2 linked regions of the Homo sapiens genome follow. The protein of the gene in region 1 interacts with the protein of each later gene in a biochemical or structural test. Each region holds a gene or a part of one and is shown in the gene's direction. Other genes may lie near its edges.

The links.
Region 2: the proteins of PSMA3 (region 1) and UBD form a complex in vitro, tested with the Homo sapiens proteins (one study listed by BioGRID).

Annotation. Positions count from the first base shown.
Region 1 is NC_000014.9:58,254,843-58,258,659, forward strand, and holds part of PSMA3 (proteasome subunit alpha type-3), read left to right. Parts: intron 1-2,902; coding exon 2,903-3,004; intron 3,005-3,082; coding exon 3,083-3,156; intron 3,157-3,817. UniProt on the Homo sapiens protein: Component of the 20S core proteasome complex involved in the proteolytic degradation of most intracellular proteins. This complex plays numerous essential roles within the cell by associating with different regulatory particles.
Region 2 is NC_000006.12:29,556,806-29,561,346, reverse strand, and holds the start of UBD (ubiquitin D), read left to right. Parts: upstream 1-1,614; 5' UTR 1,615-1,645; coding exon 1,646-1,672; intron 1,673-3,573; exon of another isoform or gene 3,574-4,541. UniProt on the Homo sapiens protein: Ubiquitin-like protein modifier which can be covalently attached to target proteins and subsequently leads to their degradation by the 26S proteasome, in a NUB1-dependent manner.

The DNA of each region.
Region 1 (3,817 bases):
CAAGAGTGATAATAGTACTTGGCACATACAGTTGTTGTGAGGTTAAAAATTATTATGCAAAATGCTTAACATGTAATGAGTGCTCAGTATCTCTTAGTAATTATCATTATTACTATTACTGGGTAGCGTAGGAAAAAAAGGCTATTAAAGATTGTGATACCACTTTTAAATTCTGTAACTGTCCTGGGCTAGAGGGTTTCAAAAACTTGGTTGGTTTATGGTACCTTAAGTGTCTCAGTAGTTTTTCTCATGGCTTCCCTAGGCCGAAAATACCTAATGGTTTCATTTATTAAGTATTTAGATCCAAAGAACTTAGTGTTTACATCCTAAAAACTTAGTAGCCGTTTTTTTTTTTTAAATACACACATAGTGAAAAATATTTTTATTTAAAAATTAAAATGTTTTATTTTAAGCAACCAAAATTTCTAGTATATACACTGCACAACCTCCCAAATTTGGATGTGGCCACTGTCATTTCCTGTTCCACACTGATTTTTGCACAGTACTTACTTTTTTTCACAGCAACCACTAACAGCCAAGCTTCTCAAAGATGTGGTGGCATTGAAAGGAATGTAGTAAAACGATCTAATGTTCAAACGGAACTACTTGGACATTTTTCTCCAAACTTAGAATGTGCCACACTAGGCCAGGTGCAGTGGCTCACACCTGTAATCCCAGCACTTTCGGAGGCCAAGGCGGGCGGATCACCTGAGGTCGAAAGTTCAAGACCAGCCTGACCAACATGGAGAAACCCTGTCTCTACTAAAAACACAAAAATTAGCCGGGCGTGGTGGCGCATGCCTGTACTCCCAGCTACTCGGGAGGCTGAGGCAGGAGAATCCCTTGAACCTGGGAGGTGGAGGTTGCGGTGAGCCGCGATTGCACCACTGTGCTCTAGCCTGGGCAACAAGAGCAAAACTCCATCTCAAAAAAAAAGATATGCCACACTAACATGTGATTTCACTGCAGTGCCTGAGGACCTCTCGGCACATACATAGTAACTGCAATTCTGTTTTTGTTTTTGTTTTTGTTTTGAGACAAAGTCTCATTCTGTTGCTCAGGCTGGAGTGTAGTGGCGTGATCTCGGCTCACTGCAGCCTCCGCCTCCCGAGTTCAAGTGATTCTTGTGGCTCAGCCTTGGGAGTAGGTAGGATTATAGGTGCCCGCCACCAAACCTGACTAATTTTTGTATTTTTAGTAGGGGTTTCACCATGTTGTCCAGGCTGGTTTCAAACTCCTGACCTCAGGTGATCCCCCTGCCTCGGCCTCCCAAAGTGCTGGGATCACAGGCATGAGCCACCGTGCCCGGCCTAGTAACTGCAGTTCTAAGCCGCAAATCTTGAAAGAGGAATGGTTTATCATTGTAGTTTATTCAGCCAATAGGCTGAAAAAAGATTTGCGATTGTGCCTTTTAGAACAAAACAGTTACAGGTTGAGTATCTCTCGTCTAAAATGCTTGGGACCAGCAGTATATCGGATATTTTTCGATTTTGGAATATCTGCATTATATACTCATCAGCTGAGCATCCTTAATCTGAAAATTCAAAATCCAAAAAGCTCTACTGAGCATTTCCTTTTTTTTTTTTTTTTGAGATGGAGTCTCGCTCTGTTGCCCAGGATGGAGTGCAGTGGCGCGATCTCGGCTCACTGCAACTTCCGCCTCCCAGGTTCAAGCAATTCTCTGCCTCGGCCTCCCAAGTAACTGGGATTACAGGTGCCTGCAACCACGCCTGGCTAATTTTTGTATTTTTAGTAGAGACGGCATTTCACCATCTTGGCCAGGCTGGTCTTGAACTCGTGACCTTGTGATCCACCTGCCTCAGCCTCCCAAAGTGCTGGGATTACAGGTGTGAGCCACCAGGTCCGGCCTGAGCATTTCCTTTGAGTGTCATGTTGGCACTCAAAAAGTTTCAGATTCTGAAGCGTTTTAAATTTCAGATTTTTGGATTAGATATCCTCAACCTGTAATAACTTTAGAGAAAAGAACAAATTTGGGCCGGGCACGGCGGCTCACACCCATAATCCCAACATTTTGGGAGGCTGAGGCAGGCTGATCACCTGAGGTCAGGAGTTCAAGACCAGCCTGGCCAACATGACAAAACCAAACCCTGTCTCTACTAAAAATATAAAAATTAGCCAATCCCAGCTACTGGGGAGGCTGAGGCAGGAGAATCCCTTGAACCTGAGAGGCAAAGGTTGAAGTGAGCCCAGATGGTGCCATTGTGCTCCAGCCTAGGTGACACAGTGAGACTCTGTCTCAAAAAAAAAAAAAAAAAAAAATCTGACCAAGACCCATGGTTTTTATTCGTTATAATGAGGTAGTGGTAGTAAATCAGGGGAAGAGGATTTATGATAGAAGTAGTCCTGAATATTGGCCGGGCACGGTGGCTCACGCCTGTAATCCCAGCACTTTAGGAGGCTGAGGCAGGCAGATCACGAGGTCAGGAGATCAAGACCGTCCTGGCTGACATGGTGAAACCCCATCTCTACTAAAAATACAAAAAAATTAGCCGGGCGTGGTGGCAGGCGCCTGTAGTCCCAGCTACTCAGGAGGCTGAGGCAGGAGAATGGCATGAACCCAGGAGGCAGAGTGTGAAGTGAGCGGAGATCATGCCACTGTACTCCAGCCCTGGTGACAGAGCGAGACCCCGTATCAAAAAAAAAAAAGGAAATGTCCTGAATATGAACATTGGACAAAGCAATGAAGTTATACTTACTAAATTTCTAAATTATAATTTCATACTCAAGCATCAAAATGCCTTGTAGAGAGACCTTTAAGCCAAAAAAGTTTATTTTGAATGGTAATACTTGTTAAAAAAATGTTTAATAAGTCTTTATTAATTGCAGACTTTGATTTGTGATAGGAATGTGTTCCTCTAGTAAATTGGTGCTTTTTTTTCAGGCAGTAGCAGGTTTGTTGGCAGATGCTCGTTCTTTAGCAGACATAGCAAGAGAAGAAGCTTCCAACTTCAGATCTAACTTTGGCTACAACATTCCACTAAAAGTAAGTTGATAACATATTGAGGAACCTTTTGGACAGTAATAGAAGTTTATTAATAAGCTCTTCTGCTTCCCTCCATAGCATCTTGCAGACAGAGTGGCCATGTATGTGCATGCATATACACTCTACAGTGCTGTTAGACCTTTTGGCTGCAGGTAAGAAATTTTGTGAATTATTCAAAAGGCAGATCTGTACTATAGATATTTATTATGTTCCCCAGCATCTTAGCCTTTTACATACTTAAAAATAGAAACTCGTCGATAAGTATTAGGGCAATGATTAAATAAAACAGTGTACATAGAAACTACTTGAGGCTGGGTGCCATGGCTCAAGCCTGTAATCCCAGTACTTTGGGAGGTTGAGGTGGGAGGATCCCTCGCGCCCAGGAGTATGAGACCAGCCTGGCCAACGCAGTGAGAACCTATCTCTACAAAAAAAATTTAAAATTTAGCCAGGTGCAGTATCACATGCCTGTAGTCACAGCTACTTAGGAGCTGCTTGAGAGGATCATTTGAGCCCAGGAGTTGAAGGCTGGAATGAGCTGTGGCCATACCACTGTACTCTAGCTGGCGCAATAGAGACTCTGCCTCTTTAAAAAAAAAAAAAAAAAAAAAAAAAAGGTTTCAATAGTGAAAAGGACTATATAGATCTGAAGTGATTATAAAACAAGGAACTGATAACAATGACTTTAATCTGATTATAATAAGCTCTCGGTGTTAGTCCCTGATATTCTTAGGTAATTTTAAAAATTACGTCTCACAATTCCCATTAGGCACGGTTTCTCTTTCTGTTGAAGTGCTGATATTTTATTGTGGG
Region 2 (4,541 bases), on another chromosome or scaffold:
AATTTCCCATAGGAAGGGAAGAGTAAAGAGAGAGAGAGAGGTCAGAGTCCAGGTTTGTTGTTCATATGTTTTCTTGAAAGGGCACTATTTCCCAGAATCCAGGTCATCTCTGGGTAGGGAATCCCCTGAATTAGTTTTTTCTGAGAGTATATTAGATTTGCCCTCACAGTAACCCCATGCTGGAAATACCCAACTCCAGTAGCACTTTTCTCCCTGCCTTTTCCCACTGAAATAACATAATAATATAGGAAGAATACAAGGACTATAGAAATACAGATTAGTGTTTGAACCCTTGCTTACCAGCTACTACTAATATGATTGTGGATGAGGTAGCTTCTTACTTATTAACGGGGATACTAATAGAGGTGGTTCCTTACAATGATTCCATTTATGATTTTTTATTTAATAGTGATACCAAAGCAATACATACTCAGTAGAAACCTACTTCAAGTTCCCATAAAATCATCTGCTTTTCACTTTCAGTACAGTATTTAATAACTTAAATGAGATATTTCACACTTCAGTAGTAAATACACTTTTTGTTAGATAATTTTGTCCAACTGTATGCTAATGTAAGTGTTCTGAGCATGTTTAAGGCAGGTTAGGTTAAGCTATGATGTTTGGTGGGTTAGGTGTATTAAATGCATTTCTGATTTTGGATATTTTCAGTGTACAATGGGTTTACAGGGATGTAACCCCATCATAAGTGAAGGAGCACCTGTACTTACTTCATTAAAATGCTGAAACAGTAAATAAGGTAACATTTAATAATATGTTGTGCAGTTCTTGAAATTTAAGTACTCACCAAATATTACTTTTCCTTTTTTTGTTATTTACTTACTTTTCATTCATTTATTAATTCATTTGTGCATTTAGTAAACATTTATAAATTATTTCCTGTGCCTGACAGCATGCTGGAACAGTGCTAAAGATACAAGTTAATTAAGACACAATCACGACCCCCAAGATTCCTACTCTTTTCTAAAGATTACAGACAAGCAGACGATGCTATTGTTGAAGAAACATGCTCTGAGAGGCATTTGAAGGAAGTGTAGAGGATAGAAGATGGACACATAACCCAGGATGGGGAGGAAAAGAGTTAGGGAAGGCTTTTTGACGAAGATACTGTTTACACCGTGTGTTCTTATAAATTCATGGTGGTGGGGATAGAGTTGGAGGAAAAGGCATGCTCAGTGGCGTGGAGATGGCAGAGAGATTGGGGTGTTCAAGGATATGCCGGGAATTCAAGGAACGAGAATTCCCATAGACACAGACACAGCTAGACATAGAGATCTGCAGCTTAGGTTTGGGCTGTGGGTATAGATCCAGGTGGCTTCAACAGACAAAGATCTTTCCTGAGAAAAGGGAAAAGTTTTCAACACAGAAAGACCATCCCATGTTTGGAATGAGGTTTGCAAATAGATTGCTTGAGGAGAGAAGTATGTGATCAGAAAGCATTCTTTGTCTATTAACTCCTGCCCAGCAAAAGTGAAAGAAAATTCATGGGAGCATGCAAGAACAAAGAGCACAGCAAAGCTGGACAAACACAGCAATCCAGGCAGGGGATTTCCAACTCAACTCTGGTATATAAGCTGCATGCAAAGTCCTTTTTCTGTCTCTGGTTTCTGGCCCCTTGTCTGCAGAGATGGCTCCCAATGCTTCCTGCCTCTGTGTAAGTTGGGATTTGATAAAGGGGATGGGGAAAGGAAAAGCACTTTCAAGAGTTGGGGAGAGATCTTAGAAACGGGGGCTGGGCAGTACTCAGGGCTCTGGGGGGCTGGGCAGGCATCCTTCAGGAGAAGAGGCTGGCATTGACATTTGCAGAATGGGAAGAGGGATTGTCTGAAGAGAAGCTGGTTATCTGGCTTCTGTGTTCTTTTTTAAATAAAACATTGGACTAGCTACTCTTAGGGATAAATGGTAGAAGAAAAAGTGGGGGTGAGCTTTGTGTTCCACAGGGCTGGTGAGATTTGAAATTATGGTAACATTTTTTAAGGTTCTTAAACTTAATCTTCCCTCTCCTCTCAAAGGAGAGCTTCACAAAACTCATTCATCTGAAGTTGTTAATGATCTAACACATTACATTATATAAGAAAATATGCACTATGGAGAGAACCTGGAATTAAGGCAATGCTTAACACAGATCTTCCAGTGAAGAAATGTCTGCAATATCTAGATTGGGAAAATATTTCTGAATGGAGTATGAGGGAGGTCTTCTCAGGCTTTCAAGTGGCCATTAGGGGTGAGTTTTCCCATCTTTTAGGATTTTCCAGCTATTGAAGTAAGACTTAGATATAGTCCCTACCTTCTGTGAGTGAGGCCCTAGTCTTATCAAAGGAGATCACATTCTATATTAGTGTTACCAGGGGGTCTTTGCTCCCAGAGCTCTCAAGATGGTGGTGGGCTGCTTCCAAAATGGCCGCAGGCCGCTTCCAAGATGGTGGCAAGCCTCGTGTTCTCTGACCTGGGGTTCTTGGCCTCATGGATTCCAAGGAATGGAATCTTGGGTCATGTGGTGGTTGTTACAGCTCTATTAGAAGCCATGGGTCACGGAAGAGAACCGTGGACCCAGTGACTAGTGTTCAGCTCGATTAGGAAGAACCTGGGCACTTAGCCGTGCAGAACAATGGTACGCCTTTAGCCCAATCAGGAGCGGCAATGGGCGCCTCACTGGTTCAGAAGCACAGCGGACACCCTGCCAGATCCGAGGGATGGAAGTCAGCCGCGGGTCTGCGACGGTGGCAAACGGCAGTGGTGGATGGCAAGCGAAAGCTCACCTCGAGCCGTAAGAAACATAGACCAGAAGAGTGCAGTTGCAAGATTTAGTAGAGTGAAGACAGAGCTCCCATACAAAGGGAGGGGACCCAAAGAGGGTAGCGTTGCTGGCTCGAATGCCTGTGTTTATATCCCGATCATTGTCCCTCCCGCTGTGATCTCAGGCAATAGATGATTGGCTATATCTTTACCTCCTGTTTTTGCCTAATTAGCATTTTAGTGAGCTCTCTTTACTACCTGATTGGTCAGGTGTGAGCTAAGTTGCAAGCCCCGTGTTTAAAGGTGGATGCAGTCACCTCCCCAGCTAGGCTTAGGGATTCTTAGTCGGCCTAGGAAATCCAGCTAGTCCTGTCTCTCATTAGATAGAAATAAAAACACAAGAAATATAAATTAACAAGAAACACTGAACATAGTGTCACGGTAGTATGTGAGTTATTATTATAAAGCAGTGGGATATTTGAAAAGAAACTAACAGTTCAGTGATTATGTGTCCTACCCAGGATTTCCTTCTGAAGTATTGACAGAGGGTATCCTATGGCTATGAGTATCTTCATGAGGCTGTCATATTTTGGAAATTCTCTTTGAGAGTTGTTTTTAGAGTCTGATGTACATCTTTTGAAGCCTCGTATTTACTTGTTGACATTTGACAAACTTTATCTGGATAGGAGAGGCAGGTAAATAAGGTGGAAAATCACTAATTACATTTTGAGATGGATAAAGGTATGTTTTTTACATCCATTGAAATGCACAGAAAAACGAAATGTAAAGATTGTCAACTAAAAAAAATCACACAATTCATAAATTTAGAAGGGGAGTTTATTTCTTATGAAAGGTTATAGTCTGCAAGGTAGCCATTCTGACAGGCTGGGAAGTTTTGCTTCTGATTGAAAACCAAAAGCAAGCACTTTGCAGGAGGAAAGGTGACACAGGAATTTATGCTGAAGGGGTTTGCTAAGTATACATATCCAATAGGTTATAGCAGAGGCAATGAATATTCATGGAGGGGGTCCTAATGCATGCATATTGAATAAGCTTGCATGTTACATACCACCCATGGTCACTCTGAAGTGGAGACTTAACATTTAATTGCATTACAGTTAGGCCTTATACATGAAAAGGTGAAGCAGGGACACAAAGGCATTCAAATGCACAGCTTCTGTAAACTAGCCAGAACCAGTCCATGGTCAGTGGTCTCTTATCAGGAGAAAATTACTGAAATCAGTCTTTTGTCCAATTAAAACTGTAGTTATGGCTTGTGGAACACGGGGTCAGTTAGCCTGTGTTCCCCAACACAGGGTGAGCTGTAATTGTTTTAATATTGTTCCTGTCAAGGCCAGTGCTTGTTTAGCTGCTAGAGAAAAAAGAAAAAACTTTGTGGCAGAACATAGTTTATTCTTTAAGTGTAAGGGATGCATGACTTAACTTTTGCCTGTTATAGCCCTCGGTCTTGTTTATAATTTGCTATCTTATTGCCACAAAGAATCCATTCTCTCAGTCTTATAATCTCTAACTTTGCTGGTCAGTTGTGTCTAAACTGCAAAAGGGAGAAGATACAATGAGGCATATCCAACCTCCTGTTCCATCATGACTGAATGTTTTATTTATTTATATTTTTGAGACAGAGTCTCACTCTGTTGCCCTGGCTGGAGTGCAGTAGTGCCATCTCCACTCACTGCAACCTCTGCCTCCTGGATTCAAATGATTCTCCTGCCTCAGCCTCCTGAGTAGCTGGGATTACAGGGACTTGCCACCACTACTGGCTAATT